Homo sapiens: one gene and its partners. The protein of the gene in region 4 purifies or fractionates together with the protein of the main gene of each other region. This does not show direct contact. Each region holds a gene or a part of one and is shown on either strand. Other genes may lie near its edges.

Region 1 (7,292 bases), on a different chromosome or scaffold from region 4:
AGTGCTGGGATTACAGGTGTGAGCCACCACACCCAGCCCAAACTCACTGATGAATGAAGAAATCTCCATTCTTGATGGCAAAACCATCAAATATATTCAAGCAAAGTGTAAAATTTTGTGCTGCACCTGATTTTCTTCAATATACTAAAATGGCCAAAGATTTTTACCTACACTCATCACTGTCTTCAAGCTGGAAGGAAAAGACACAGAACAAGCAGCTTGGTTTTTTGCTCTTCACTCTCACACAATCCCAGCCTCAATCCTGTTTTCCCAAATCACAACACAGATTGATTTTTATTTTTATTTTAGATTCAGGGGGTACACGTGTAGGTTTCTTACATGGATATATTGCACGATGTTGAGGTTTAAGCTTCTATTGAACCCTTCAACCAAATAGTGAACATAGTACTCAACAGGTAGTTTTTCAACCCTTGATCCCCTTCGTCCCTCCCACCCCTTTTGGAGTCCCCAGTGTCTGTTGTTCCCATTTTTATGTCCACATGTACCCAATGTTTAGCTTCTACTTTTTTTTCCCCCCTATCATCCAGGCAGCAGCCTCAAACTCATGGACACAAGCAATCCTTCCACTTCAGTCTGCCAGGTAGCTGTAACTACAGACGCTCACCACCATGCCCAGCTATTTTTTTTTTATTTTTTGTAGAGACAGGGTCTCATTATGTTGCCCAGGCTGTTCACAAACTCCTAGCCTCAAGCTATCCTCCCAGATTGGCCTCCCAAAGCACTGGGATTACAGGTATGAGCCACTGCACCCAGCCTAGCTCCCACTTATAAATAACATGCAGTATTTGGTTTTCTGTTTTGGATTAATTCACTTAAGACAACAGCTTCCAGCAGCAACCATGTTACTACAAAGGACATGATTTCATTCTTTTTTATAGCTGTGTAGTATTCCATGAGCAACACAGTTTTAGACAGCATATCAATACAACAGACTCAATGTTCACAGCATGGCACACATAGGAAGTAGAAGCAAGTATTCATCAATTTTACAACACATTTGGCAAAACCAGTGCTCTGGGATAAACTCTACACACCTTCAGGTCTAGTATTCCATTCCAATGTAACTGACCATGTTTGAGTCTACTTTGAATTGCTGGCAGAATGAGCTCTGAGTGTCAACTGGCTAAAGGAACCTGGATCTTGGTGTGGATTTCACAGCTGGTCCTACTGGAGGTATGGAATAGCAATGTAGCTAGCTACAGGCTACAGATGTCATAAAAAGCCACTGTTGCTTCTATATAATCTGTTGAACTTGATGCTCTAGAGGCAAATATACAGAAGACATGCAGAAGTGGTTTTCCAAGTCAATGCACTATATTTGATTGATAATAATTCTGAAGCAGACTCCTGTGACCTGGTTTGGGATGGCTCCAAACATAGCCAAAGGAATTTTCACTAGGTATATACAACTAAAAAGTCTCCTACTTTGCAATATCAGGAAGAAGATAACAAACATTTACCAAGGATTAATTACTCACCAGGTGCTTTCTGGCACATCTTATCTCATTTAATCCTCACAACAACTTAGTCGACTTTTTATAGTCAAGTAGCTAATAAATGGAAGAGCTAGGATTAAACCTGTGTCTAGCTATCTGATCCTCAAATCCACATCCTTTCCACTAAACCACACCATATCCTGTCTACTTTGTTCTGAGAAATGTGCTTTAAAATTTCAAGGAATTAAATGCAACATGGTCTCCTGGATTGGATCATAGGACAGAAAACAGACATTAATGAAAAAAAAAACTGGTGAAATCCAAATAAAGTCTAGAGGTTAGTTAATAGAAATGCGCCAATGTTAATTTGTTTAGATAAATATAGCATTATCATGTAAGATGTTAAAATTAAAGGGAACTAGGTGAAAGGTAAGTGGAAACTCTACTATTTTGGTAACTTTTCTGTAAATGAAAAGCATTCCAAATAAAAAATATATTTTTAAAAAAATTTGGCCAGGTGTGGTGGCTCATGCCTCTAATCCCAGCACTCTGGGAGACTGAGGTGGGCGGATCACTTGAGGTCAGGAATTTAAGACCAGCCTGGCCAACATGGTGAAACCCCATCTCTACTAAAAATACAAAAATTAGCTGGGTGTGGTTGGCAGGTGCCTGTAATCCCAGCTACTCGGGAGGCTGATGCAGGAGAATCACTTGAAACCAGGAGGGGCAGGTTGCAGTGAGCTGAGATCATGCCACTGCACTTCAGCCTGGGCATCAGAGAGAGACCCTGTCTCAAACAAAAACAAACAAGCAAACAAAAATTCAAGGAAGTTCTGAATCTCAGTTATTGTCCTGAAGCTTGGTACCTAACTGGATGTTTCCAGTGGAGTAGAAACACATGGTCTTGGCCGGGCGCGGTGGCTCACGCCTGTAATCCCAGCACTTTGGGAGATCGAGGCGGGCGGATCACGAGGTCAGGAGATCGAGACCATCCTGGCTAACACGATGAAACCCCATCTCTACTAAAAATATAAAAAATTAGTCGGGCATGGTGGCACGCGCCTGTAGTGCCAGCTACTCAGGAGACTGAGGCAGGAGAATCGCTTGAACCCGGGAGGCAGAGGTTGCAGTGAGCCAAGATCACGCCACTGCACTCCAGCCCGGGCAACAGAGTGAGACTCCATCTCAAAAAATAAATAAATAAATAAATAAATAAATAAGCAAATAAATAATATGGCCTTTTCTGTTGTTATAAATTTTAAATCTACCAGCGATGTCAACACATTAGGGTAATGCAAAAACAAGTTAAATCCTACATCAAATGACATCTTGATTGACCAGCAATAAAATAAAGCCTGTCTACAAAAAAAAAGAAAATCTCACCAAGTTTATCATGACGGCAGGTGACCTAGACAGCTGCTTTGTAATATGCTGAAGTAGGCAGCTATGAGTAGCTGGGAAGCATACACAATACAAGGCCACCCTGAAGCAAAGGTTAGGATGATGTCATTAAAATGTTGAATTTTGAGAGGCCGAGGCGGACGGATCACGAGGTCAGGAGATCGAGACCATCCTGGCTAACGTGGTGAAACCCCGTCTCTACTAAAAAATACAAAAAAAAAAAAAAAAAAAAAATTAGCTGGGCGTGGTGGCGGGCGCCTGTAGTCCCAGCTACTCGGGAGGCTGAGGCAGGAGAATGGCGTGAACCCAGGAGGCGGAGCTTGCAGTGAGCCGAGATCACACCACTGCACTCCAGCCTGGGCGACAGAGCGAGACTCCATCTCGGGGGGAAAAAAAGTTGAATTTTGAGAAAGAGCAGCAGCAGGCAAACCCAACTGACCTACAGTAATCAAAGAAGCAGAAATGGATCATCCCTTTTGGAATTAAGATCTTGTGCAAATTACAAAGGAAAGAGACACAACTGCAAACAACAAAAGACTCTACCCCCACTTCAGCATCAAACCAGAGGGCAATCTGTCTATGCTGTGGAAAAGGGCTTCTGATCCTGCACTGATCTGGATGACACCCGCACATTCAGTGTTTCTAGCCTATCATCGTTAAAAAAGAAATACTCATATACTTACATTAAAAAGTTCATGTAGAAAACTTAAATTTCCATATTTAAAGCTTAGATCTCTTCCACACGACTCATCCAGGATAAACTTATGGTTTAATATTCTACATGTTTAATTATACCATGTTCAACTCAGTTGGGTTGCCAGCCCTCCACGTGGCTTAAGGTTAAGTACATTTTTTGAAGGCTTCTTGTTTTTGTCTTCTCAGTGTGCTATTTATGCTGCTAATTATAAGGTTTTCAAGCATTTTTCCCTCTTTGGAATTTTAATTTACTGTAAATGCTTGCCCCTTAGAACATTTCCTAGTGTCATTTTATTTTTGACCGTTTTGAATACAAAATCCTTGATAAAGACATCCAAAAAGAGGGAGAATGGGGAACAGGGACATACTGGGGGGCTTCTGAATTGTCCTCTGAAGTTTTGTCATCTAGATGCTGAGGGTGGTCTCTTTGTTAAAAATTTAACCATCCAGACCTTAAGGCCACACAATTAATATTCCCTCTGGAATTGTAGGGCCTCTGTTTGAAAGAGTTGTCCAGTTTTCAGGCCACATTAGGTAATTTCCCGCCCAGGAGCGTGGCTTGGAAAGAATGTCGGTGTTTTCCTTCAGGTATAGGTGCCTGGGGGTCAGGAGGGGAGGGAAAGGCGAGGGGTGGAGTGGGAGGCGGGTGATCGACAGGGATAGAAACTGTGTCTCCTCCTCCCTCTGAATGCGAAATAGCCAATGAGGTGGCTAGGCCGGGCCGGCCCGGCCGCCACTGCCATATAGTATGCAGCAACCGGAGGAGTCACGTTGGGGGAACGGCAGAAAGCAGCTATCCGTTTACACTACTTTGCTCTAACAGCTATCTTAATGGTGACTGCGTGGCCGGGGGGAAACCTGATCGGCCAGATACAGCCGAAACCAGGAGGGAGGGAGTGGGCTTTCCGGAGGGGGAGAGGAGGGAGGGAGACGAAGGAGGAGGAGTAAGAGAGGAGGAAAGAAAGAGGAAAAGAGTGCGAGGGAGTGAGGGAGGGAGGAAAATAAACAACAAAAAATGTCCTCTTCCTCCCCCACCGGGCAGATCGCAAGTGCGGCGGACATCAAGCAAGAGAATGGGATGGAAAGCGCCTCGGAAGGGCAGGAGGCGCACCGAGAAGTGGCGGGGGGCGCGGCGGTAGGGCTGAGCCCCCCGGCTCCAGCCCCTTTTCCCCTGGAGCCGGGGGACGCCGCGACCGCTGCCGCCAGGGTGAGCGGAGAGGAAGGGGCAGTGGCGGCGGCGGCGGCCGGAGCGGCGGCGGATCAGGTACAACTCCACTCGGAACTTCTGGGCAGGCACCACCACGCCGCCGCCGCCGCCGCGCAGACCCCGCTGGCCTTCTCGCCCGACCACGTCGCCTGCGTGTGCGAGGCACTGCAGCAGGGGGGCAACCTGGACCGCCTGGCCCGGTTCCTGTGGTCCCTGCCCCAGAGCGACCTGCTACGTGGCAACGAGAGCCTGCTGAAGGCGCGGGCGCTCGTGGCCTTCCACCAGGGCATCTACCCCGAGCTCTACAGCATCCTCGAGAGCCACAGCTTCGAGTCGGCCAACCACCCGCTGCTGCAGCAGCTCTGGTACAAGGCGCGCTACACCGAGGCCGAGCGAGCCCGCGGCCGGCCGCTGGGAGCCGTAGACAAGTACCGGCTGCGCAGGAAATTCCCCCTGCCCCGCACCATCTGGGACGGCGAGGAGACGGTGTATTGTTTCAAGGAGAAGTCGCGCAACGCGCTCAAGGAGCTCTACAAGCAGAATCGCTACCCTTCGCCCGCCGAGAAGCGGCACCTGGCCAAGATCACCGGCCTCTCCCTCACCCAGGTCAGCAACTGGTTCAAGAACCGCCGGCAGCGCGACAGGAACCCCTCCGAGACCCAGTCCAAAAGGTGAGCGCCAACTTTCCTCCTCCTCCCCCTTCCTCTCCCCCACCCCCTTCCCGGCTTTCTTTTCCTCCAAGTGCTCGCAAACATGGCGCTTACCTTCCCCACCAGCCTGGTCCGGCTGCCCACCTCTCCCCGCCCCCTACCTCGCTCCCCGGCCGGCAGAGGTAGGGGGCGGCGGAGGCGGGGGGCGGGGGAACCTCCCTCCTTACCCTCCCCCTCTCCCCCCAGAAGTTTCTGGTCGCCCGCCTAGGTCTCAGTCCCCGCCCCCACCTCGGCTGGTCACTGCTGCCCAGCTTCCCACCCCCATCCCGCTGGCTTTGAAGTTGCCACCCTCTCCCCGTTTCTGGAGGGGCTAACGAAGCAAATGTGGACACCGGCACCGTAGCTCTCCCTGCCGCCCGAGGCCCGCAGAGACTGCCGGCGCCGGCCGGGGTCTGCACCTCCGCGAGGTCACACCGGGCCTGGCGCGCGCGCACGCTCCCGGATCCCCAGGGTTCAGCCGCCCCCCGGGCCTGCGCTGGAGGTCGCGGTGGCTGCTCTGGTGAAGGGAAGAGAGTGTTGTGGGACTGGCGGCGCAGAAGGGGTCTCGGAACGTCGAGGTTTCATATGACAGAGTTAATCATTCACCCTGCCCCTATGGTTCCCTTAGCGGCCGCGGCAACGTGGGGTGCTGGTGCAGCTCGGCTCTGTCATGTTTTGAAACCTGATTCTGAACTCCTTAGGATCGGGTTTCAGCGCAGCCGGGGTAGCAGGGCTGAAGGGCTGCTTCCTCCCTCGGCCCCCGAACGCTGCTTGGCTCCCTCCTGGTACGGTAGTTATGGGTGGGGGGCAGGCCGGCTTACGGCGGGCGGCAGCAAAGGAGTGGGGGCGCTCCCACCCCACTGGGTTTGAGCTTTTTGCCTGGCAGACTGCTTTCCCCCTCTGGTAAAAAAAATACCGGATTTTCCACCTCTTTTGTGCGTCCTCCCGAGTCAGACACTTGGTGTGTGCGTCTGTGTGTTTTGTTGGACGAAACAAAGTAAGGAGAAGGTCGCCTAAAGACCTGGTGTCTCCAGCCCCGCGGGGATAGGAGAGAAAGAATCCAAAAGCAGCTCGAAGGTTCTTCTCGGGGAAGCAAACTGGGAGCCGGGGATCCAGCCCGCCTGCGCCAGGTGAAGGTGATCACCAGCGCATTCCAGAGCCGGTCTCAGCCCGCCCTTGCCGCTTCTGGGCCCCTGTGGGGGTCCGACGGCTCGGGCTCCGGCGTTCCTCGCCCAAGGCTGGGAGGGAGGCTTGGTGCCCTATCCGGCCCTCGCGGTAACCAAAACAAAAGGTGCACCGGGATGTGCGTGCGCCTTCCGCAGATATGCGGAGAGGTCCAGAGAAGGCGCTTTGGTTACGCCGAGCCACCTGCCCTGCGCCCACTAGAGGCCGCGGATCCCGCGCTCGGAAACCAACGGAATCCGCAGGGCCGGGGCAGAGGGTGGCAAGGGGGCACCGCGAGCAGGCCAGCTGCTCCGCCGCCTCCGCTCGCGAGCCGGGCACGCTCCCTGGGACTCCCCCACGCTCCACTGCTGGCTTCTTCGTCCCCCCCGCCCCACCCCATAAACTCCACACCCACCCCGCCGCCGGCCCAGTTGCCTGGTTTAGGCCCCTCTCCGGATCTACCTCCCACCCGCACCCCCGGTGAGTCACCCTCGCAGACGGCGACGGCGGCTCAGCCTCAGCTTGTAAATCAAAGCGCTTTCTGCGCTCCTGGCCCCGCAGCCCAAAGCCCGGGTAATCCCCTCCCCTCGGCATGAAAGCGAACCGACCGCGGGGCACTGCGGGGATGTCGGATCCTCTGCTGGGCCAAGTCCTGCTGCGCTTCCAAAACGCCTCTGT
Region 2 (7,460 bases), on a different chromosome or scaffold from region 4:
GTGGCTGTTAGAATTGGAGTTCTCGTTGTTCTCCCTGCAAGTGCGGGAGCAAAGCAGCGGGGTCAGCAGGGACATCGAGACCACCCAGCGCCATCTCAGTCACAGTCAGAGCCAGCCACCAGCCTCGGGAGACAGATCCCGGGCTTGTGGCCTGCGGGTGTTTTCGGTTTCTACCATTTCCTCGACCTGGTCTGGGTTCTCCTTTCTGCCCGTTCTCTCCATCTCTCAACACCCAATTTCTCTTGCCCCTCTGCCCTTATCGTCCCCACCTCTCATGCTGTCAATCTCATCAATATCTTTTCTATATTTCCTCTTTCCCCCCTTCCCCAATATTTCTTTTCAGGAACAGAGGTGCAGGAGAACAGGGTTCCCTGAAGTTGTGGGGTGAGCCGGGAGGAAGAGACGATGCCTGGATTTTCAGATCACTCTAGGCTCCACAAGCCAGGTTTGCTGGGTAGATGTGGGGCTAGCAGGTTAAGGAACCCTGGATCCCAGGTCAAGGGATTTAGGGCCTCTCACAAGACTTCATTTCCCTTTGCTTTTTCTGCCCGAGGGAGACCCCTGGCTGGGAGACAGGCTCCTGGGGCTAAGCGTCCTTTCCCTGTAGCTCCAAACTGGGCAGCCCTGTGAGGGCTCTCCTTGCTGGGCCTAGAGACAAGGGTCCAAGGATGGAGGACTCCCTTTCCGTGGTGGTACAGTGAAAACGTCAGCTCGGAGACCAGAAGCTTGGGGGATAAAGGGCAGCCCCTGGGAGAAGGCCGAGGCTTTTCCATTGTAACCAGCCACTCCGGGAATCTGCAGCTCTCATCTGGGGCCTGGTCTGAGAACCCAGGTTTTCAGGAGTCTGATCACATGCCGGTTTGGGTGGAGGGGGACCCAGCAGAGAGAACCCACCTCCTTCTATGCCTTTGACTGACAGCTCCTCCCCAGATTTGGATATTTAAAATCCTGGGTAGGATCTCTTGTCACCAGCTTCGGGAGGGTTTTTCTTTCTGCTTTCCTGGGAGGGAGCTTCCCACAGGGCTGGCAGCTGAGACCTCACCACTGTGGAAACTCCAACCTCAGGGTCTCAGATACCTGGAAGTATCTGAGCCTGCAGCACTCCCCCTAAGATGTTTCTGGTTCAGCACCCTCACCTCTGACCCTGATCATTCAAACTCAGGGTGGAACACACCCCATATCACCAACCCCAGGTGTCCTGTTTTGCTCTTACCCCGGGCTGGATTCTGTTCCCATAATAAGTTTCTCTCCAGGTTTGAGGTCCTGAGGGGTTATAGGGCAGGCAGTGGCAAGGGCCTAATGATCAACCTTTAGGCTGGTTCAGGAAGTCCTGGTTTACCTGAGGACATCCAACTCCCAGCCCCTCTGTGCCTCTCAGCTCACCGCAGACATTCCGACCTACCCATCAGAGGTAGGGCCTAAGGAGAGAGGCATCAAGGGCCTGGAGTGCCAGGGAAGGGCGGCTATCTCTAGCAAGGCAGAAAACAGGGCATGCGTCTCTTCTCTCCCAGAACTGACACTTCCTCCCTTTCACCTCTGGATCCTTTCTAAGGAGATAAAGGACCCGCTCTCAACTCCATGTGACAACGAAAATTCATGGCCTGGCTTTTCCCCATCCAGGTCATTCTAGGGAAGTTCCAGCCCCAGTCCCGACCCCATCACACTTTGGCCTGGAGCTAAGGCTGGGGGGAAATGCCGGGAAGCACCACCAGCAAGAAATCTGCAAATCCCCTTTCATCTGGGCTCAAACCCCTCTGTCCTGAGGATGACCAGACCTACTGTGCCTGCCTCACAGGGGATACAGGCCCACAGTTCTGCGCTGCCCCGAAGCTCTCTGCTTCTCCACCCTTTTCCTCTAGCGACCGAGTAGTTAGTTGACAACTTCCTGAATTGCTCTGCCCGCTTTAGACAAATCCCTGCTCGCCGGGTCTCCGGCATAGAAAGGCCTAAGCATCGTCCAAGTCAGGCCGGGCTGCCGCTGGGCTGTGGCCGGGCCTGGGGGCCCAGTTTAGGCCTCTCCGGGGGACCGGCAGAAGCCCTGCGAACCCCTCCCTTGGGCCCCGGGGAGCTGGCGCCGAAGAAGGTCTACTTACTCGTACCTTTCCTTGGCCTCGGCCGCCCGGTCGCGCTGCCGCCGGTTCTTGAACCAGTTGCTGACCTGTGTGGTGGTGAGGCCCGTGGCCTCCGCCAGCTCACGCTTCTCGCGGGGTGAAGGGTAGGGGTTGTGCGCGTACCACTCGCGCAGCACGCTGCGACTCTTTTCCTTGAAGCAGTAGCTGGTCTCCTCGCCGTCCCAGATGGAGCGCGGCAGCGGGAATTTGCGGCGCACGCGGTATTTGCCCACGGCGCCCAGGGGTCGGCCGCGCAGCTTCTCCGCCTCGATGTAGTGTGCCTTGAGCCACAGCTGCTGCAGCTTGGCGTGGTTGTGCGGCGAGAACTGGTGGCTCTCCAGGATCTTGTAGAGCTCGCGGAAGTTGCCGCGGTGGAAGGCCACCACGGCCTTGGCCTTGAGCACGCTTTCATTCTTGTGAAGGTGCTCGCAGGCGGGCAGCGACCACAGGAAGCGGCCCAGCCGCTCGATGTTGCCGCCCTGCTGCAGCACCTCGCACACGCACGCCACTTGCTCCTGCGTGAAGCCGAAGGTGGGCAGCATGGACATGGTGCCGGCTGCGTCCCCGCCCGCCCGCGCGCGCCCTCACCGGGCCGCGCGGTCCCGCATGGGAGCTTCCTCGCCGGGCCGTCCGGGCCGAGACGCGGGCGGGGCTGGCCCCCTGGCCCGGCACTGGCCCCCGGTGAGCCCCGAGTCACTGCCGTACGTCCCCGCGCCGGCCGCGGGTCCCACGAAGCTCCGAACCCCAACGGCCCGCGCGCCTGGCCCAAGCCCTCGCCCAAGCCCGGGGGCCGCCCGGGGCGCCGCTCCGCATGCTCCGCGCCCGCCCGCCGTTCCCTCGCTCGCTTCTCACTCGTTCTCCCTCCCGTCTAGCTGGCTCTCAGCTTTCTTAATAATATTATTCTAAGCGGGCATGAGGCGCGGCGGCCCGCGCCCTGATTGGTCCGGTTATCTGACCCGGGGCCTGCCAGCGCCAGACAATAGTCGGAGTCAAATTATTCGCCATGGAGACGCTGTCAGTCACTGGTAACCCGAGCCTCGGCGGGCCGGGCGGCTCCCCCCGGCCGGCTCCGCTGACAGATCGCCCCGCTCCGCGCAGAACTGAGGGCGGCTCTACTGGAGCCTGGGGCGCTCTGAGAGCCTGGGAGGCGGAGAGGGGCCGGGTTGGGGCCGGCGGCGGCGGAGATTGACGGGGCGGATGCCCAAAGAGGGAGGGAGGAGGAGGACAGGAGAGCGGGGGGAGCGGGCGAAGACGAAAAGGGGTGGATCGAGGTGGGGAGAGAAGAGGAGAGAAGGGAAGGCGGAGACCGTTTAAGGGGGTGTCCAGGAGGAAGGGGAGGGAGAGGGGTGGAAGGAGACTCCAGGGGAAGAAAGTTTGGGCAGCTTTGGCTAGGAGAGGGCTCTGCAGCCTCGCCCAGACCCTACAGGGTTCCCCTTCTCCCCAGGTCACCGCGTCCCTCCCAGGCTCTCTGTTCACCGGGCACATTCTACCCCGGCGCAGGCCAGTGGGATGGGAGAGTTTGGACGTGCTCGGGTGCCGCCCAAAGACTTGGCTTTTTCTGCTGACAGCGCCCCACCCCCATCCTAGAAACTCTGGACTCAGCGGTCCTCGAGGGAAAAGGGGAGGGAGTAGACGAAAGAAATGGGGAAGATTTGGCAGTGGCCGCAGGCGGACGCCGGAGAATCGACTTCCCGGAGGATCCCGCCTTTCCTCCCTCTCCTAGCCCCGCCGGCTGCCTGGCGGCCTGTACCGCCCCAACTCTGCGCTCTCTGCTCCTCGCCGGGCGGGGACTCAGACTTAACCCCACGGGTCCCACAGCCCGAGGAGCGCCAGGCAGTTCCGTGTGGCCTCTATGGAAGCTGACTCCGGCCGGCAGCTGCGACGCAGAACCCCGGACGGCGCAGACCCGCAGTCTGCCCACCGGGGCGGGGGAGAGGGGCGACGGCAGGGACTCTAGGACGGTGGTGGGGCTTCCCCGGTGGGTGGTCGGGGAGGAGAACGGAGGCAAGATTCCCAGTCCTCCCGCTTCGCCGCTGGGGATCGGCTCGGCTCCTGGCCACTCCAGCCTGGGAACCGGCTCGCTGAGCTCCGGGATGAGGTGCTTTAAAAGGGGGTCCTGTTTTTTGCTTCTTTGTCAGGGTGCCAATGGAAACATGTGGTGCTGGTCCTGTGGGAGAAGGGCTCGCACAAAGGTGGGAGAACTGAGGATGGGTGTGTTCTTGCTCTACGTTTTGAAAAGCCCGGGGCTTAGCTCCTTCCCGGACATGTCCTTTCCACTTCCTTCAGTTTCCTCCTCTTCCCCCCTCAGCTGCTGCAGGCCAGGAGCTCCTAGGGCCATACTCAGTGCCTGACCCAAGCCAGCACAAATCCTGGGCTCTGCCCTCAGCCAGTCTAGGGCTATGGAACCCGAGTCTAGGCCAGTTCCTTCTTTCCCACCCTTTTATGCTTTCTATGGAGTTTGTGCTAGGAGCGCGGAATGGGAGTCTAGAGCCCTGGGTTCAACTTTTGGTTTTGCTTGGTGTCTATGGTAAGGCATATATTTATGCCTTTGTGTTTATTTCCTTCTCTGCAAGATTTCAAAAATTTTCCCTGTGCTGCAGCATTCCGGAAGTCCTTTGGGAGTGTTGTAGGCATGAGAGAATGGAACCCTGGGACTCCTCTTAAGACTTTAGCTTCCAGGGGCCTACCCTGGCATGTTGAATGAGGCCACAGGGCTGACAAAGTAGGTCCCAAGCCAGTGCGGGTGCAGAAAGGGGAAGCTTTCTGCAGAAATCCAGGTGGCATCTTTAGAGTCTGTATCTGTGGGCTGGGAGGAGGTCTGCTGTGTCCAGGCCACCCTATCCAGAGTCCTATGCACTGCTGCACAGGGGCTGCCCCAGAGTTGGATCTAAGGACCCTGGGAGACATGGAGAAGAATTTACCGCAGACTGTGATGAGGTTCAAAGCCCAATTTGCTGACCTCCAACAAAAGTGCAACGTACTCTTTTCAGCACGTCTCCTTCAGCTACGTGGTTAAAAGGATTCACCTGGCTGGCTGGTCCCAGCCCTGGCAATGGCCATCTTACATCTTAGCGTGCTTAGGCTGGGGCTGCAGAGGAGCACCCTGGTCTGGTGTGGGTGAGTGAGACCAGGCAGTCACTTCCTGGTATGAGACCCTGGGCCAGTCCCCAGTCTGCTCTTCATTCTCTTCCACTATTAGATTGAAGCCTGGGTAATCTCTCAAGTTCCTGCTGGTTCTGGGATGGGGTGGGTCTAAGAACACTAACCCTGAAAAAGCATACAATCTCTGCAACCTCAGCCACAGCCTTCACCATGAATGTGCCACTCCTCTGACCCATGAAGCTTTAAGATTAAACTTCCCCCAGGACTGGGTCCCGCCTATGTTCAGTGAAAGCAGATTTTTCTGGAGCTTCAGACTCACTGTTCCTCCAAGTGCTGCCCTCTTTGCAGCCCCTGGGCCCTAAGCCCATGAATCAGACCTGCCAGGAGCCTCCAGGCAACACTAAGCAGCACAGAGAGAACAGAACAGACATGGGGCCTGCCACCGTGGATAACATACTGTGTGCCATATGAAAAGTCATTACAGAGGAAGCACTGAAAACCTGGAGCACCGTTACCCGATGTATGGGTGTGTGTCAATATGCCCCTCATTCTCCTCCTCCCCCATGTATGTAGAAAACTGGTTCCAGCACATCTGGGCCAGAACCTCTTGGTAGCAGCAGTAGCTGGGTTACATGCTGAATGAGGGTCTCCTCACACTCCTTAGCCCCTTCCCTGCCTGGCCCATTCCCCGATAGTCTTTGCCACAGAACAGAATACTTGGGAGGTGTCTGGATGAGGATTTAATAGCCAGCCTGAGCCAATGACAATCTCAGCCCCCTAGTTGCAGTGCCCAGAGCAATTGCTGAGAGGCCTACGGGGTGCCGAAACTTTTGGTTCTACCTCACTCCAATCTCCGGAATCCCTGTCCTCCTTCCTGTCCAAAGACCCATTCCCAAGAGGCTTGTGCTTGCTTTTTATCCAGCAAAAACGGGAGAAACTCCATGGCTAGGGGGAGAAACCTTTTCGGAACCATGGAAATTTGAGCTTTACTGAAACACCTCCTTTCACCTCCAAGCTTCCCTGAAGTCCCTGGGAGGATGAGACTTTCTGGAAAGCAGCAGCAGGGGTGGGTGGGTGCTCCCCAGTGATCTCAGGCTGATGGAATAGCTTTGTCCCAGACGAATTGTCAGGGACAGTTTGGGGTCTTTGTGCCTGGAGTTGGGCAGGAAGCGCCCAGGACAGAGCCAGAAGGCACCTACTGTCCGGCGCCCATTGGGCAGCCCAGGGCTGGCACACCGCGCCCAGCGGGTGCACTTCTGGGCAAAGGAAGAAGTCAGCCCACTGGCCTCCCGAGGGCTTCCCTGGTTTTGGGATGGGGCCGTTTCGCAAAGAATAGGGTAATCTAGGAAGAAGGAGCTGCTCTCTGGCTATTTCCAAGGCCAGCGGATGGGTAGGCCTTTGTTCTGGGCAAATCAGAAACCTTGTTTGTGACAGAGGGAAAAAGAGAAGGGGGCGGGTGCTCGGTGCCAAGTCAGGGGACCAGAGCTTTTTTTTTTCGGTTTGTTTTTGATCTTTATTTTTCCAGCCTATAAAGGCGGCAGAAATCCCCTGGGTAGACTCTGGCCCTGGCGCCGCCCGCCTCGGGCGCTCCATGCTGCTCCGCACCTCGGGCTCTGGGATGCTCCGGCCTGGATGGAGGCTCTCCGCCCTCTCCCAGCTCCGAGCGCCCCAGCCGACATGGGCCTGGCGCGTTCCCCAGACAGTCCCGGAGTTCTCTGGGCCTGGGCGACGTGTTTCGTTGAAAGCGGGCAGGTGGTGCCGGGCGGGGCTGCGCTGAGGCTCCGGTGCCTCCCCACCTGCCCCTCGTACCTGCCGGTCTGTCGGGTCCCGGCGGACGCAACCAGCTACTCGCAAACCCTGCACCAGCGGTTTTCCGTGTTGTCCTAAGAGGGGCAGGTCAGGGCGAGGCCAGTCGGCTCACACGAATTCTCTGTGTCGGAGAACACGCCCCGCGACGTTCCGAGCCCGGGCAAGGTTGAGAGGCGCTGGGCTCCGGGCGGTCGCACTCTTGGAACCGCGCGAACCGCGGCGTCGCCCGCGCCGCACGTGGCTGGGGCAGTCACAGGCCCCGAGAGCTGGAGCAACGGGGTCACCGCCACCCCTCTGCCCTCCAGGCCTTCACCTTGAGACCCACGCGGCAGCCTGGAGGGCCCACAAGAGCAAACGGTTTAGAGGCCGCGGGCTCACGAGGGATCTTGTTCAAACGAAAAGAACGAGCACAGGGGCTCGGGGCCAGCCTGGAGGCCG
Region 3 (7,962 bases), on a different chromosome or scaffold from region 4:
GGGAGGTGAGAATTCCTCTTCTGAGCTGGACATGAGCGGCTTGCCCCCTTCCAGAGGAGAGAGTTGGTTCTGCTTGTTGGAGGAGGAGTTATTGTTTTCGGTGTTCTCCCTAAGAAATAGAGGACAACACCATATGGTTAAAAAAAAAAAAAAAAAAAAAAAGTAGGTTAAAAAAAAAGTGTGAGATGGAGGGAGGGGAGCTGGAAGGAGGAAAGGGCCATTGTGCAATCTGTCACCAACCCAAATGGAGGAGCTCTACCCTTCCACCCATCCCCAAGGGTAATGGGGGAGGTGAGGAGTCAGAGGAACCTGGAGAAATGGAGAGCTACGGACAGAGCCTCCTGTTAGGAGCCAGGTCCTTTTCTCTTCCAGATTTCAGAAAGTGATAGATTAGCAGGATTTATTTGAAACATACAAAATATATGTTTTAAATTTTGTTCAAGCAGTTACATTTAAATACATATAAACTAGCAACATATTTAAATGTAACTGAAAATCTTTCAATAAATAGATATTGGTGATAAAGAAATGATAGAGGACAGAGTCCAATGCACAAATGTTTGGGGTGAATCAAGTCCATTGCCTTGTTCGCATATGAGGAGACAATTAAACATCCCGTTTTCCTGCCCCAGCCCAGAGTTGGTGGTTTTGCAGACACAGAACAGGTCATGGGAAGTGGTGCCCAGCGCGGCCCAGTGACCTGAGTAAACACAGGGAGCGCAGCCAGTCTCTGATTTCATCTGGAGTCGGCCCTCGGGCCTGGCTTATAGGACGGCCGTTTTGTAACTAAAGGCTAACTGCAACCATACAATCCCTGTTCCTGTGTTACTTGCTAACTCTTCAGCCCCTCGTGTCCCCCTCTCAAACTTCCTACCAACACCCACCCCAACCCATCCTTTCTGGGCAGGGGAAACTTCGCCGCCCCGCACAGGCTGCCAGCGGGCGCGGCGCGCTGGGGCGTCAGTCCGGGCACTCGGTACCGGTTAACTTCAGGATTTCGCTTCCCTCGCCGCTTCCGCCTTCCGAGTGCTCGTCAGTCCTCCCGACTCCTAGCGCCTGTCTGTCTCCTTTCTTTCCCCTTATCCTCACAGTCTCTGTCTCCCGACAAGCCCATTTCAGCAGAATTTATCCTGGCTCTGGTTTTCCACCAAGACAAGAAAGGGAGCAAGATCTTCGGCCCCTAGTCTTGGAAGCGAACAAAGGAAAACCTAACCGGCCCCTGCGCTCAGGTTTTCCCCCAAACTCTTTGGCTTCGCGGAGCGCTCTCCCCGCCACAGCCACCTCCCCACCGTCCTTCTGAATCTCTGTCCGAAACGCTATAGAGAACAGAAGGAGCCTGCCCAGGTGGCCGAAGGTGTTGCCCCGAGGTGGGGGAAAGTAGAGACCAATTTTTAAAATATTGCCTTGTGAGCTCCAGTGCGAGAGAGGGCTGCGACTGGAGACCCTTTCCTCGTCTGGGCATGCGGCGCGGTCAGCCAGACCGACGGGCTGCAGTGCCGGGCCACGCGCGAGCGAGCACGGCGAGGATCAACCCTTTCTTAATTTGGGGCGCCGGGGAGTAAATGCAGCGCCAACTCTCCCCAAAGCTCTCTTTTTGTTGTATCTTTAAAAGTCTCCTCCATTTGTCCAGCTAGTGAGAAATGAAGCAGGCTACCTCTAAACCAAAAGACTATCAAGAGAGAGCTGTGGAGAACCAGGCGGGAGTGGGGGCAGAGCCAATGTCTCAGGCCAGCTTCACCCCTCTGGGGAGCAAGAGGAGAGAGGTTCGCGAACCTCAGCTCCCACCAAACCCCTTTCCTTGCGACACCAATCAACATTTCACTGCCCGTTGATTTAGAAACTCACTCTCCACCCACCACTCATAGCCGCGGCCAGCCAGGGAGGCATAAAGACCAAATCTAGCGCCAATATTTCCCGACACTCACATCCCAGAGAAACCCACGCGCGGGTGCTCAAAGCAAATGAGGCCCCATCCTTAGCAAGGAACCTCAGAGTTCATGAACTTTCGCTGCAGCGCCGCGGAGGGCCTGCGCGCCGCCCCGTGGACGGGCTCCGGCCGGCGGGGAGGACTTGGTGGCTGGTGCCTGCGGGGGCGGGAGGGGGCGGAGGAGAAAGGACGGCTTCCTAGGGTCGCCCGAGTCGCGGGAAGCACGCCGCGTACCTTTCCTTGGCCTCCGCGGCCCGGTCTCTTTGCCTCCGGTTCTTAAACCAGTTGCTGACCTGGGTGGTGGTGAGGCCGGTGGCCTCGGCCAGCTCCCGCTTCTCACGCGGCGATGGGTAGGGATTGTGCGCGTACCACTCCCGCAGGACACCCCTCGACTTCTCCTTGAAGCAGTAGCTGGTCTCCTCGCCGTCCCAGATGGTGCGCGGCAGTGGAAATTTTCGGCGCACCCGATATTTGCCCACGGCGCCCAGGGGTCGGCCGCGCAGCTTCTCGGCCTCCACGTAATGCGCCTTCAGCCACAGTTGCTGCAGTTTGGGGTGGTTGTGAGGCGAGAACTGGTGGCTCTCCAGGATCTTGTAGAGCTCACGGAAGTTGCCGCGGTGGAAGGCGACCACCGCCTTGGCCTTGAGTACGCTCTCGTTCTTGTGCAGGTGGTCGCAGGCGGGCAGTGACCACAGGAACCTGCCCAGGCGCTCCAGGTTTCCGCCTTGCTGCAGAACCTCGCACACGCACGCCACTTGCTCCTGCGTAAAGCCAAACGACGGCAGCATCGACATGGCTGGGGCCTGCCGGGGCGCACGGCCCAGGCGCACGCGGCAGGGAGCAGAGCCGAGAGGCAGGGGGCGGCGGCCGCAGGGAGGGGGGCGCGGCTGTTCCTAACCTCCTCCTTAGGCTTTGCAAAGGCGAAAACCGGAGTCGGAACTTGGCGGTGGGCGGCCAAGGAAGAGAAGGCGGAGGAGTAGGGGAGGTTCTGGACACGGAACGGCCGGCGCACTCAGTAGCCTTTAAGGCCTTGCTGCCTCCGACCTCCCGCCCGGTGGATGCTGCTAGTTGCCGGGGAACTTGGTTTCTGTTCTCCCCGCAGCGGCCTTAAAGCGCGCAGCGTCCCCGGCACGCTGATTGGCTGCCGGCGGCGCCTATCCGGGGCTGGCCAGCCAGCGCGCCGCCCGGCTGGGCAGAGAGGCCGCACCGCCCAGAGCGGGGAGGGCGAGGCTGCGGAGCTGGGGGTTGGGGGTGTTGCCGGGGCTGCGCGGGTAGGGAGTGGTGGGAGGAGAAGGAAGAGGAAAGGTGGGAAGCCAGTTGGGGTCTGAGGGAGCTGCGCTGCGGAGGTGTGGGGAGGTAGGGAGTGGGTGAGCGCGTCAGGACCCTGCAACGCGGGACCCGTCGCCAGTATCACCTAAGGGGAGTCGCGCACAACTCCGCACAAATCAATGACTCCAAACCTTAATTCCTCCCCTCTCCCTCCGTACTCTTGTCCTCATCCCTTGCAGACTTGCCCTCTCCCGGTGAGCTCATATTTAATTACTTTAATGTTGGAATGAATAAATAATGGATTGATGAATAGCTTATGGAACGCGATAAATAATTCAAGAGCAGACCAGGGTCCGCGCATGCAGCCTCTGGAAGAGTGGCTTCGGGTTGGCTTCAGCTCGAGGAGTCCAACCCTATTTCCTCCTCCCTCCCCCCACCAACTACCACTGTCCTCCCCCCACTGCTGCACACCACCCTCCAAAGGGCACAAGTACTCCCAGTCGGACAGCGTTTCCCTCGTTCACAAAAGACCTCCATGATTTGAGACCAGGCAGAGAGCTGTTTAGAGCATACTTGCTGAGCACCTAGAGACTCCGAGCGTTCATTTGTGATTTGGTATCTTAATGTTCTGCGATTGAAACCAGCAGGTTCCTGAAGCTTCTGGACTCAATTTCCCCATCTGTGCGGTTGTGTTTTGCAGTGCCACCTCTGCTACTGAGGAATGCCGAGAGGCTTTACTTGCTATTAGCAAAAATGCTTTGGGAACCTCGTACGAAAGGCGCTGGATGTGGTGTAAATTAAATAAAACTGTGCCCGGCTCCAATAACCGTCCGGTTGTAATATAATCCTTACCCTGCTCTGAGAGGGACACTGCCCTCAAAGCGAGAACGACAGCGGCTCCAAGAAGATTAAATAAAGAGGTGTGTGTGTGTGTGTGTGTGTGTGTATGTGTGTGTGTGTGTGTGTTGCAATGCTGGCCTATTTTGCTGCCAGGGAATGAGAGATGCACTGCAATTTAAGTCCCATCATCTGCTGTTTTGTTTATGTGTGGAGAATGCTTAGTAAAACTGCACAAACAAGTGAAGTTGTAATTATCTTAAGCCTCATTTGCACACCTAGTTCCAAAGCAATAATTAAAAGGATTTTGAAAACAATTAGCCTCTCTAAACAAAGATAATCTATTGTCAGTAGCTGAGACTAGCAGGAGATAAGAACAATGCGTGGAGATAAGGGAAGCCAAATGGTGGAAGGAGAGTGACTTTATGACTATACTTATCTCTGATTAGATAAGTTCAAAACAGAATTCTAAGTACACTTCAAAAATGCTTTTGATTTCAATGTGCCCTCTTAGTGAGTGGTGAAGAACAAACTGTAGGCTCCTTAAACTGGCTTGTCTTCTTCAAATATGTTTTGATTCCTTTAGCCAAAGAGCCCAGCACTACAGAACCTTTTGCATATTGAGATGCAAGTGGGAGAAGGAGAAGCATGTCTTGGTTTCCTCTTTTATTATTAATATGGTTTTAAAATGATGCACCCAGTACAGTGCACCCTGCAACATACATTCTAAACTCATAAAGGGTTCCCACCTCAGGGCTGCCACATGGGAGATTCCAAGTAGACAGGAAGCTGCTTCTCTGCTGAACATAATGTTTTCTGCATCCTTGAAACTCTTGCTTATTCCATGCAATTAGATCTTGGAAGCAGATGCTGATATTTCATTACCTTAGGCTTTTTTTTTAAAAAAATGCATTTAATAGGTGTGCATGCTTTCAAAAGAGCCTCTGCCATATAGTATGCCCAATGACTTTCTAAACTGGAAGCCTGGCACTGCTAAACCCAGAGCCATGTCTGGTAATTTCCCCTCACTGTCTTATTTTAGTGCTTATGATGTTTCACATGAAGTCTTAAGGAGCTGCAGTGCCCTCCCAGAAGGAATGCCTCTGCTTGAAACAGTCCTTATTGACATGGCAGCTGTGTGAGGACCGGAACGGAGGCTTAAACCCGGCTCTAAAAATCAGTTAATACCCTAAAGTCTGGAGCAAGTGCGCACAATTACAATGGGGGGAGGGTCTTTAAGCACAACCACGTCTCTTAAAAGACAAACAGTATGTTGAGTATGGGGTGTGCTTTGTAATTAACAATTTTGTATAAGGAAATGAGGCATAGCCTGCACAAATAAGGGCAGGTATAAATTTACAGAGGATGACAGCAGAGATGGCAATTAGACACAAATAGGACCACCTTTTTTTCCCGGCTTCCTCCAGACCTACCTGCCCATTTCTTTTTATCTGTCTTCAAAAGGAACCAGGACGTACTACATTGCCGTCATCTGGGAAGACGACGTGTAGAAGGTGTGATTGCGGGAACCCGGGCAGAAAAGAGGTGCTCTTCCTCGGAGGCCGTGACTGGGCCGGCCAACATTTTTCCTCCCGCTTAATCCAATAGATCGCGTAACTGGAAAGGGAAAGTGCTATGCGCTTTATACCAAGGAGTCTACCTGCTATTTCGATCCCTCGGTTAGGGGAACCAATTGTTATAAATGTTAATTATTGGCTCGGATATATAAGGTTTCCCAAAATGGAACCTTTCACTGAAAACCGCTGAAAGAGGTAAAATGACATGAATTTACAAACCACCTAAACTAAATGATCCATTTTAAATCGCACACAGAAAGGTTTGAGTTGTTCTCGTAACATAAAACCTTTGCTGTCAATGCAAATCGCACGAAAAGCAGAGATGCGTTGGAGATTTAAAGGAAATGAGCAACTCTAGCCAGCCGGCTGCTGCCCTCGCTGCAGCGCGGCTCGGGAGGGAACACCGCTGGCAAGGAGCGCCCGATGCCAGGTTTCGGCTCTCCAGTGCCTCCTCTGTGCAGGTAACGGCCGCGTGCGCTTTAGTCGATGAAAAAGCATTCAGTGGGACAGCATTAGCTGTTGCTAGGGTTTCTCGGCTGGGTTGACAGGCCTTGATGCAAACACCCCTAGCTGGGACCCACTTGTTTCCCTTCTGGCTTGTAGCAAGATAGTTAGGGGCTCCCGGGCCGCTTTCTTGGAATTCTTTCACCATCCAGAACGACGGTGAGGATTCTACTCTACCTACAAATATTTGGAAAGGGAGGGCATAGAGAGGTGTTTCTTCAATAAATTCGTGTCATCGCTCTGGGGCAGTGCGGAGACTCCCCAAATCCGGCTGAAGTGCCAAAATTCTTTTTCCTCTGCTTAGTCGGAAACTCCGGGTGCCCTCGACCCTTGGGAACTCCGGCTCCGATGGCCGGCGTGGCGCCGGAGCAGCAGCCCACCTGCTCCTGGGGGACGCCGCTCCCCGCGAGGTCTGAATAGGCCTGGGGCTCAGGCAGAGAGATTTGCGGACTCAGAGAAGAGAAACCCAAAACCAGTCCATTAGTAAATGAGTTTTGTGTTGTCAAGGTTCTTTCCCATCCACTTGCTGTTCTGAAAAATAGATCACGTTTCGTTATCTTTAGTGGGAATCTGCAACGTGACACCGGATCCGCGCGGCCCCCGCCTCCCTCCCTGCCTCGCTCTGCCTGGCTGAGGGGAGCAGGCGGGCCTCCTCAGCTTATTTCTGAACAATGAAGATTTGTCTCTTCCCCAAGTGTATTTATGTATGTATGGAGGGAGGAAGTTTTCTCCTGGAAGCGGGAAGCTCGAGAGCAGAGCCTCCTACTTCTTTGGTGCGAAAACGCTGCGCTGGCCCAAGATTCAGGGCGACTGACGCCCCCCACCACCTCCACCGCCCACACCTGGACAAACAGAGCCAGCTGTGAGCCTGGCTCGCCGCTGAAAACCCTGCCGCCCCGCGCGGCTCCCGAAAATACCATCTCCGTATTGTCTCGAGGTCAGGGAAGGGAGAAAGAGAGAAACACACACAGACTGATGGACCGACTGAGGGTCAAGCACTGGGAGGGAGCTCAGACTGGAGGGGAACAGAGCTGGGGTGTGTGTCTTTGGAAGAGTTATTCTCTCTCTCCCTCTACGTGTGTCCCCGTGGCAGGTCTTTCCCAGAGTGTGTCTCTAACTCTTTTCTCCATCTGAAAGAGGACGCTCGTTCATTCTGTCTGTATGTGAACCTGTTTCTCATTCTCTCTCCTTATCTCTCTCTCTTCTTTCTCATTGTTTTTCCTCTTCCTCTTCTCATCCTCCTCTTTCTTCCTCCTTCCCTCCCTCTCCCTTCCCCTCGGCTCTGGGCGCTCGTTTTTTTCTCTCCGGGACTGGGCGCTGTGAGGTTTCACAGAGTGTGCTTATGTCACCCACTGAGGCAGCGCAGGTAAGTTCTCTTGAAAGTAGACCCTCAAGTCTGGGCGGTGTAGTAGGCCTTACTTGGCGAGAACCTTTCACAGGGAGTGGAGGGCGGGCAATAGATGGTGTAGCCTGCACGGAGGGCGGGCAAAGGTGTATTGGCCACCTAGGGGAGAAAAGGGTTAACAAATTGCCCTCTGAGAAAGCTCTGACCAATCGCCAGGTTTGAGCTAGAAGACCCTACTCAACATCAGATGCCAACTACCTCTCTGGAAAGTGGAGCCAAGGTGTCACAAGAAACAATTCTTAAGAATTAAAGGGACTCTGCGCCCCACCCCCCATTCCCTGTTTTTTAAAATGTCTCCTTAGGGCAGGTTTATGAAATGAAACTCTCCAAAACCGCTATCTTCCATTGAATTTCCAATCAACTTTTTTTTCTCAACTTATGTACATCCTGAATACCACATCTGTCTAAGCTAAAAAGAATTTCCTTTTGGGAGGTGAAAGCCT
Region 4 (7,571 bases):
AAAAATATAATGCAACCGAAGAAAATAAATTCGGACTCATTCTAATATGTTAATGAGACCACACCTGGAACAATGCATTCAATGTGGGATACCTCTAACAAAAATGAACATCTAGGAAATTGGAAATAGTTCAGAGACAAGCAATAAGAATGATTATGGGTTTGTAAAGACTGAACTGCCACAAGATTAAAAGGCCTTCTATTTGTTTAACGTGGCTAACATGACTTAAAAGTGAGCATGATATCTGTTTATAAACATCTGAGGGCTGAGTGTAAGCATGGAAGAAGGAGTAGAGTTGCCTAATATGCTACTAAAATGATTCAACTGGAGAGAATTTTCAAGAGAAAATCTAAAAGTAAATATAATGAAGCTGTCTCCCAGAAAATGTGCATTTCCTTTCTTTCAGAGGCCCTGCCAAGAATGAGGAAATTTAGCAGGTCCCCTGAAGATTTGATTTCTTCACTTTCACAAACTAGTAGAAACCTTTTTAAGCTTGATCTGTCTGCACAAAATTACTCAGAAAGTGTGTTTATTTATAGATTTTAGAAAACCGGCAGCATAGGACTCTAGATTCTTGGGCAATCATATTTTATCTTCATTTATTCCTGTGGTCTGTCATCAGCAGAGAGGTAGATTAAAAGACTGTTCAACCTTGTTCACATTAAGGTTGGTCTTTAAAACTCCATACTTCCAAAGCTCAAATAGTTTGGCTTAGAATTTACTAAGAAACAACTGAATTATTGTATTTTTGAAAAATTGTGTATATTTCCAGCTAGAGTTCATAGATATACCAAAAGTTGCTCAAGAGATTTACTTTGGGATTATTTCTACAAGCATCCAGTTCTCTGCATTCTTTTTCAATAAATGTAGTGTCTTATAGCATTTTTTAGCCTAAAATCTGTTCTTACTAAAGTGAGGGCCTGGTTTTTCCCTTAAGGTTGCTTTTAAATGAAATTAAAACAAAAATTATGTTTTGGATTATGAGCTCCTAGAGCGCTTTGTTTAATTTGACTTATACAAAATCTAATGCCAAGACAGTGCCATGCACGTTTGAAAAATAAACAAATAGTAAATGGTAACTGCAGAGGCATCCCATTCCAGAGGAGTTGGTTAAGGGAATTGCTAATAAGTGAATCTTATATTTCCACTGATTTACCCTATAAAGTCTTATATTTTTTATCTCCCCACTCCTCCCAAAACACATCCCTTTTCAGACTGAGTTGAACATGTACAAATATTCTGAGAGCCTGACTCATGTCATGCAGGGCCCACTGGTGTTTTTGAATCACTTCAAGAATCTGGCAGCAGGTCTCTGACTTCAATTTCCCCCATGTGTCTTTCTAGGCCCTTTGCGTTTCTCCCACTGTTCTACTTTCCCTCTCTTCTTCATTGTCTGTACTGTATTGCACTACTGGGCTAATAGATGCTAGGGAAGGGTAATGAGTAACCGGTACAATATTTCAGGAAAGTGATTTGCTTTTTAATTGTGCATTTATGAATTGTTTGCATTTTACCACAAATAAGATAGTAAGTAAAACAATAAATAATACATGAATTTTAAAAAGACGCCTCAACTTCAGAGACTTCAAGTATATTTTAGACAAGAAAAGCAATAATTAAATAAGCACAGAATTTAAAAAGTAATACCTCAAAGTAAATTGGACACAACATTTTGTTCCGGTTATGAAAAGGGGAGGCTTGAAAATATCTCTTGGTGAGCCTGAGGGACATATGGAATGTAATTCTTTAAACCAATGTTTCTCAAACTGTATGTGAGATAATTTTAGGTGGTACATGAGAAATAACTTTTATTTCTACAATATAGGTTCCTTTGCAAGATCATCTTCTATTCATGGCGGGTTTTATTAGTTTTCCATTTATGGTGACTATAAAAAATGTCCTTTATCAGATAAACTTATTTAATAAAAATAGATTATTTAAAGATACATATTAAGTCAATAATATAGGCGATATGGCTATAATTATAAAAGTGATATTCAATGTAAATGCTGGAAATAAGGCCTCATTTAAGCAAACAATACATTTTTGCCTTTATAACCCTAAAATTCTGTTTCCTATGTTAAACTTATTTCAAATGTGTACTGAAAATTGACGTTTTATCTGACACCTAGTGGTGTCCATGTTAATATATGTATATTTAAGACAACTATTAGAAGGTAGTAATATGAAGTCAAATAACTAATATATTATCCTGGATTTTAAAAATAATTTCTGTACATGTATTCTTATCTAGATGTACAAAAAACTATGCAGGAGCAAAGTGACCTTGAAAGCAAGGTCAGTGTAACTGAAAAATCTGACTTTAGAAGGGTACAAAGAAACATGCTAAGAAAACCCACCCTATATTTATGTTAACAATATGCTAAAGTATGAATTTTTATTTTATTCAAATCATACATCTCCCACCTTTATTTGTAGGTGAAACTAGCACATAATGTTTTATGCCAAAATGAAATTCAAAATGTTGTTGCCTTTTGAGGACAGTATTAAATTCATCATTGTACTTAATCCTTACATGATATTTGCTATAGCCACAGAACATTCTTAGACACTATGATTCACAAAACATTTAAATTGCATATTTGGCTTGTAATATATTACATATTTAAAAGAATTACTATTTTTCTGAATACCATTAATACTAATAATAGCATCACAGTGACTAAGAGTGGACTTAAATAAAGGCTGGCTTGAAACTCAGGTCTGCCATTTATTAGCAAGCTTCTAAAAATTCTGAGCCCTTAGTTTTCTCACATGTGAAATGGAGAAAATAAATCTGCAAAATTAATTAAATCTGTCCATTCATATTTTTCTCTCCAGTGTATATTAACTGGCATTCCTCGTTAGGCCAGAATGTGCTCTCAACCATGCTCCAAATCCGCTTTGTGCCAACCCCACTGCCAGAACCCTTTCTACCTTGAGAACCAGAAAAGGAAACATTATGCCTGGCAATGCCTACACCCTCCAAAATAAATCTGCAGGAAAGAACACCCAGTAAGTGATGAGAGCAGCAACGACTGCCTTTATCATTTTAAATTTACAACACCACCTTTTCTAGAGCCTCTTAAGCATTGTAGATAATTCCCCACTCATTAAAAAATAAATTGTAACCATAAGTATTCAGGGTTGATACTGCTTTTGAATTAGACAGTGCTCATATCAGTTGCATAAGACCAACCTAAAGTAGAGGATGAAATCTTTTTTCTGAACCTTTTTCAGAACGTAACTTAGTGAATATATTAAAACTAAACTTTCTTTGAATGGGAGTAATTTCTACGGATTAATCTGTAATCTCTTAGACCACACCTAAGGTAATGTAGAGGTTGTTGTATCATAGGCTTTGTGATTAGAGACCACTGGATTTGTCTTTGGAAAAGTCACTCATGATTCTTTGGGCTTTGGTTTCCTCATCTTTTATACCGGCTTAATAATGACCACCGTAGAGTTGTCATGGAAGTTAAATGAACTCATGTACCATAAGTGACCAATACAATGATTGACACTCAGTGATTTATCAATAAATTAAAACATTTATTATCAATATGACAGAGAAGGTGCCGCTAAAATAGACAATAGGTTTTTGGAAGAGGTGATTAAATGGATGCAAAATTTATGGATTGTTTATTCCGTCTACCTTTGCTGTGTCCCCTGGTTGTGGCATACACACGTGTGGGTATAAAATCGTAAATCCTATGTAGTCGCGTAGTGCATGCGCAGAAGGCTTAGACACGAAATGTCATTTCAGCAATGTGCCTAGAGAAGCTCTGACGCCGCCTTGGAAGTAAGTCGTTGCTGCCTGACCTTTGGGCGTCTGGGACGGATGCCTATACCTGCACCCAGCAGCACTGGAAGGGGCCCAGGCCCTTCGCAGCACAGCCTATCCCCAGACCGCTTAGTCCTTCATAACATATATCTCCACGGAAAAGGGTATTTCCTCCCGTCAGAAAAAGCGCCCCAGTCTGGTCTGGGTTGGTTTTTATTTCACGTTGTTGCAAGTAGGCGAAGTCCCTTCTGTCTCCTCCCTTGGGGTAAGTGGAAAGGAGTCCGGCAGGGGGCCCGCAGTGGCCTGCACAGGGGAACTGGGTAGCGAGAGAGTTCCAGGCAATTCCGGGGGCTGCCCCACAGAAGCAGGTGGGGATCGACAGTGGCTCTCCGGCCCAGGGAGGAGAGCGCGGTCGCGGGTCCCTCCCCTCAGCCTGGAGGCTGCAGCCGCTCGAGTCGGCCCGGGTGGGGGCGGGGTGGGGGCGGCGCGGAGGGCACGGAGATTACGGCGGCGCCACCCGGGACATCCAGGGCCCCGAGGCCCTGGGCGGTCCCCACGCGAGATCGCAAACCATGACAATAGGCAGTCACCCGAGGTCAAATAAAAACGGAGTGGGTCCCCCGCGCGCCGCCGCCCCCCGCGTCCCTGGCGGCCTCCCCCGAGGCCCCCGGCGGCCTCACGAGCCCGCAGTAGCCGGTGGCGACGTCGCCCCCGCCCCACCTCCCTGCGCAAGTGCGAGGCTGCCGGCAGCGCGGCGCACGCTCCGGCCGTTCCCGGCTTCCGCGCAAAACTTCCATCCTGTCCACGTGAAGTTGTCGCTGCCTTAGAGAGGGGGAAAGAGCTGCGGGAAAAGCCGGGGAGTGACGACTGCGGCGGCTGGGCGCGCTCTCTCATTTTCTTTTCTTCTCCTTTCCCCCCTGTCGCAGTCCGGAGTTTTGGCTCCTCTCCTTTCCTCCTCCCCCTCGGAGCCGGCTTCTCCCTCCGCCCCGCTTCTCCCCCGCTTGTGTACGCTATTTGTTGTGGGGTGGCCGAAGGGGATGTCCTGTTTTCACCAGAGGCACAGCGCGAAGGGGAAACTTCGACACTGGAAGGAACGAGAATAAATACTTAATTACGGACGCACTGAACCGCGGCTGGGACAGACACTTCGGGAACCCGAGGCGGACCGGGCGACGAGGTGAGTGACCCCTTCTTCCAACCCCCGCCCCAGGGCTCCCGGGGGAGCCTGAGTTGAGAGAACCCCCAAACTTTCCGGGAAAGTGCGCGAGGCTCCGCCGGGGACGCCGAGCGCTGGGTACTGAGGACGCGCAGCTGGACGGTGCGTGGGCGCCTGCGTCCCCGGGGGGCGCTTGGAGGCCGGGTGCCCCACGCCTGAGGGCCCGGGCCGCTCGGACCGCAGCGGTGCTCTCTGCCCTAGAAGACGTCCCCAAGCCCCAAGGGTCCCTTCCGAGCCTGCCTGTCCCTTCCGGGGTCGGCGCGGAGCCTGCGCGTAACGGAGTTCATCCAGCAGTCCAGCGCGCGGCTTCTACCTGCACCCCGCCTCCACCTGGCAGAGGCGCGAGCATCGGGGTCTCCCCCACATCTTTCTTATGACGTGTATTACTTTCTGATGACCCCCTAGATGGTCCAGGCGCGAGGATGCTGACCCAGAGTCCTTCGGAGGGTCACAGGCGCCTGGGCTTTCCCGGTGCCGGGTGCGTGTGTACTTTAAAGGCTCGCGTTCTAATCTCCAGGCACTGATCGGGCTTTTCAACTGCGGCGATCCCACTTTAATAGTTTTTATGTGGCGTGGACTGAATGTCTCCTGCAGTTTGCCAGGGTCGGTGAAATTAGAGGCGCCTTGTCAGAGCAGTCGCGTTCATTGGCTCGAGTAGCGGGTGCCATGGAAGGCTTATAACTTCTCCAAAGGAAGGGACCTGGCTGGGTAGAGCAGGTTTTTCTCTCCTTCCAAGCCTGCTGGGTCTGGGGAGGCAGTGGAACTTGAAATGGCTCGGATTTTTAGCGTGGTGAAGCGAGGTTTGGAAGTAGACGTGTGTGTGCTTGTTTTATTCTGCGCCGCACAGCAACCCGAACTTTCGTTTGGTAGCACTTGAAAGAGTTTTCTCCCTTTGTTTGCGAGATTCTGAACAGCTCGGAGCGATTAGGGAATTTGCGGACCGAGTCCGGTGGCAGAGCTGGGGCGAAAGCAGAGAGCGCAATTTAATTTTTGTCATCTCTTCCCTGCTTGGGAGGATAGTGTTTCCCTTCACCACCACCCCTCTTTCTCCTTCCTATGAAGACAACGGATTTGCGCCTGGGGTGAGAGTGTGTGCGGGAGAGTGGTGTGGAGACTGTCCTCTCTCACCGCGTCTCCTGCGCCTCTCCCCGCCATCCCGAGCGGGCCTAGAGAGTCATTCATGAATCTTAACCTGAGGGCAGGGGAGGAAGGTGCAGGTCCCTCTGCCCTTTCTGCCAAGGTGCAGAATAGCGCCCGGGCGTGTGTTTTGGTTCCAGAGCAGTTCCACGTGGAGCAACTTCGTGTGTGTGTGTGTGTGTGTGTGTGTGTGTTGTGTACTTGATCTGTGAGGAGGTAACAGGACTCTGGTGTTCAAACCCAGTGGGCCGTTGGCCATTAGTTTGCTTTCCTGGCTGTCATTACAGACACTTCCAAAATCTGATACCTAAGAGAACCAACAGGTTAGGTTTCACATTAAGGGCTCATACTTAACAGTTTTCTTTCTCCCTTACCCCTTTTGGCTTGGCACCCTGGGATCAACGTAATTGTTGGAGCGAAATACACCTCCTGGAATATGGCATTTTGTTCCTCTTCTCATCTGTGGCCACTTTGTGAACCCTCGGGTGTTTGTCAGTTTCAGTGCGGGCTCCTGCGGGATTTAGGTGGGAGTCTTAGGAGCGTTTAACAACCGCGGGCTCCCCATCAGCAGCTTCTGAAGTTTCACTTACACGTAGGTGACTGACAGGATTGAAAGTTGACGATGGTTTTTTTGTTTGTTGCGTTGTTTTTGTTTTTAAAACCTTAGGGAAGGGATTGTACTTGAATTCCTTTCCCGGGTACGGTTTGGTTTTAAGCAGAATCAGTGCCTTTTTTTTTTTTTTTGTCTTTTAAAATATTATTGGCAAGCTTAAACCTGAAGAACCAAAAACTAGAGGGGGTGGGGAGAGAATCCCCCCAAAAAATATTTGATACGTGATACGGAGCGTTTTAGGAGACTGCATTCAAAGACATTTGTGTATTTTTAAAAATAACATTATCCCAAGAAACAAAAAGCAGTAGTAACAAGAGACAGATTGTTTTGTGTGGAGCAAGACTGCCAGAATCTGATTTTTATGGCAACAATATCGAAAGCAGACATAACTACACCCACATTTATTGTTATAAACCGTAAAAATAGTTTGTTCCACCTGATTAAAAGTTGTAAGTCATTCAAAGTTAAACCCGTATTTAGGAATGACTGTACAAGAATGTTAAAACCTTTGACAGCTACAGCTTTGAAAGCAACATAATTAGATTTGTTGAAAATGTCTCCTTTCTCTGATTATTAGTGATATGTACTTGTCTTTCATAATAAGTAAAGGTCTACAATCAATATGGTTTTCAAAAGCCTGTTTTCCTTTGTAAATTTCCTGAAAATAGTATGTTTCAATATTTAAAGACCATTGTAACTACCGGTTGGTTCACAATTATAACTAAAATAAGATTTACTCAGTTGTTTTCTTTTTATTAGTATTTGTTGAATATTTGAAATTGAATTTCTCATTTCCAAAATAAAACGTCTCACATATATGT

Evidence for each region.
Region 1: the proteins of EYA4 (region 4) and SIX4 purify together in Homo sapiens (affinity purification with mass spectrometry; 2 studies listed by BioGRID and IntAct, with this or other methods). This does not show direct contact.
Region 2: the proteins of EYA4 (region 4) and SIX2 purify together in Homo sapiens (affinity purification with mass spectrometry; 3 studies listed by BioGRID and IntAct, with this or other methods). This does not show direct contact.
Region 3: the proteins of EYA4 (region 4) and SIX1 purify together in Homo sapiens (affinity purification with mass spectrometry; 4 studies listed by BioGRID and IntAct, with this or other methods). This does not show direct contact.

The regions. Positions count from the first base shown.
Region 1 is NC_000014.9:60,721,352-60,728,643, reverse strand, and holds the start of SIX4 (homeobox protein SIX4), read left to right. Parts: upstream 1-4,292; 5' UTR 4,293-4,385; coding exon of another isoform or gene 4,386-4,388; 5' UTR 4,389-4,569; coding exon 4,570-5,432; intron 5,433-7,292. UniProt on the Homo sapiens protein: Transcriptional regulator which can act as both a transcriptional repressor and activator by binding a DNA sequence on these target genes and is involved in processes like cell differentiation, cell migration and cell survival.
Region 2 is NC_000002.12:45,006,452-45,013,911, forward strand, and holds the start of SIX2 (homeobox protein SIX2), read right to left. Parts: upstream 3,002-7,460; 5' UTR 2,660-3,001; coding exon 2,100-2,659; coding exon of another isoform or gene 2,094-2,099; intron 35-2,093; coding exon 1-34. UniProt on the Homo sapiens protein: Transcription factor that plays an important role in the development of several organs, including kidney, skull and stomach.
Region 3 is NC_000014.9:60,646,469-60,654,430, forward strand, and holds the start of SIX1 (homeobox protein SIX1), read right to left. Parts: upstream 3,010-7,962; 5' UTR 2,722-3,009; coding exon 2,162-2,721; intron 110-2,161; coding exon 1-109. UniProt on the Homo sapiens protein: Transcription factor that is involved in the regulation of cell proliferation, apoptosis and embryonic development. Plays an important role in the development of several organs, including kidney, muscle and inner ear.
Region 4 is NC_000006.12:133,236,789-133,244,359, forward strand, and holds the start of EYA4 (protein phosphatase EYA4), read left to right. Parts: upstream 1-4,868; 5' UTR 4,869-4,961; intron 4,962-5,430; coding exon of another isoform or gene 5,431-5,623; intron 5,624-7,571. Other genes in the region: serine/arginine repetitive matrix protein 1-like, read right to left, coding at 3,998-4,868, 5,431-5,623. UniProt on the Homo sapiens protein: Tyrosine phosphatase that specifically dephosphorylates 'Tyr-142' of histone H2AX (H2AXY142ph). 'Tyr-142' phosphorylation of histone H2AX plays a central role in DNA repair and acts as a mark that distinguishes between apoptotic and repair responses to genotoxic stress.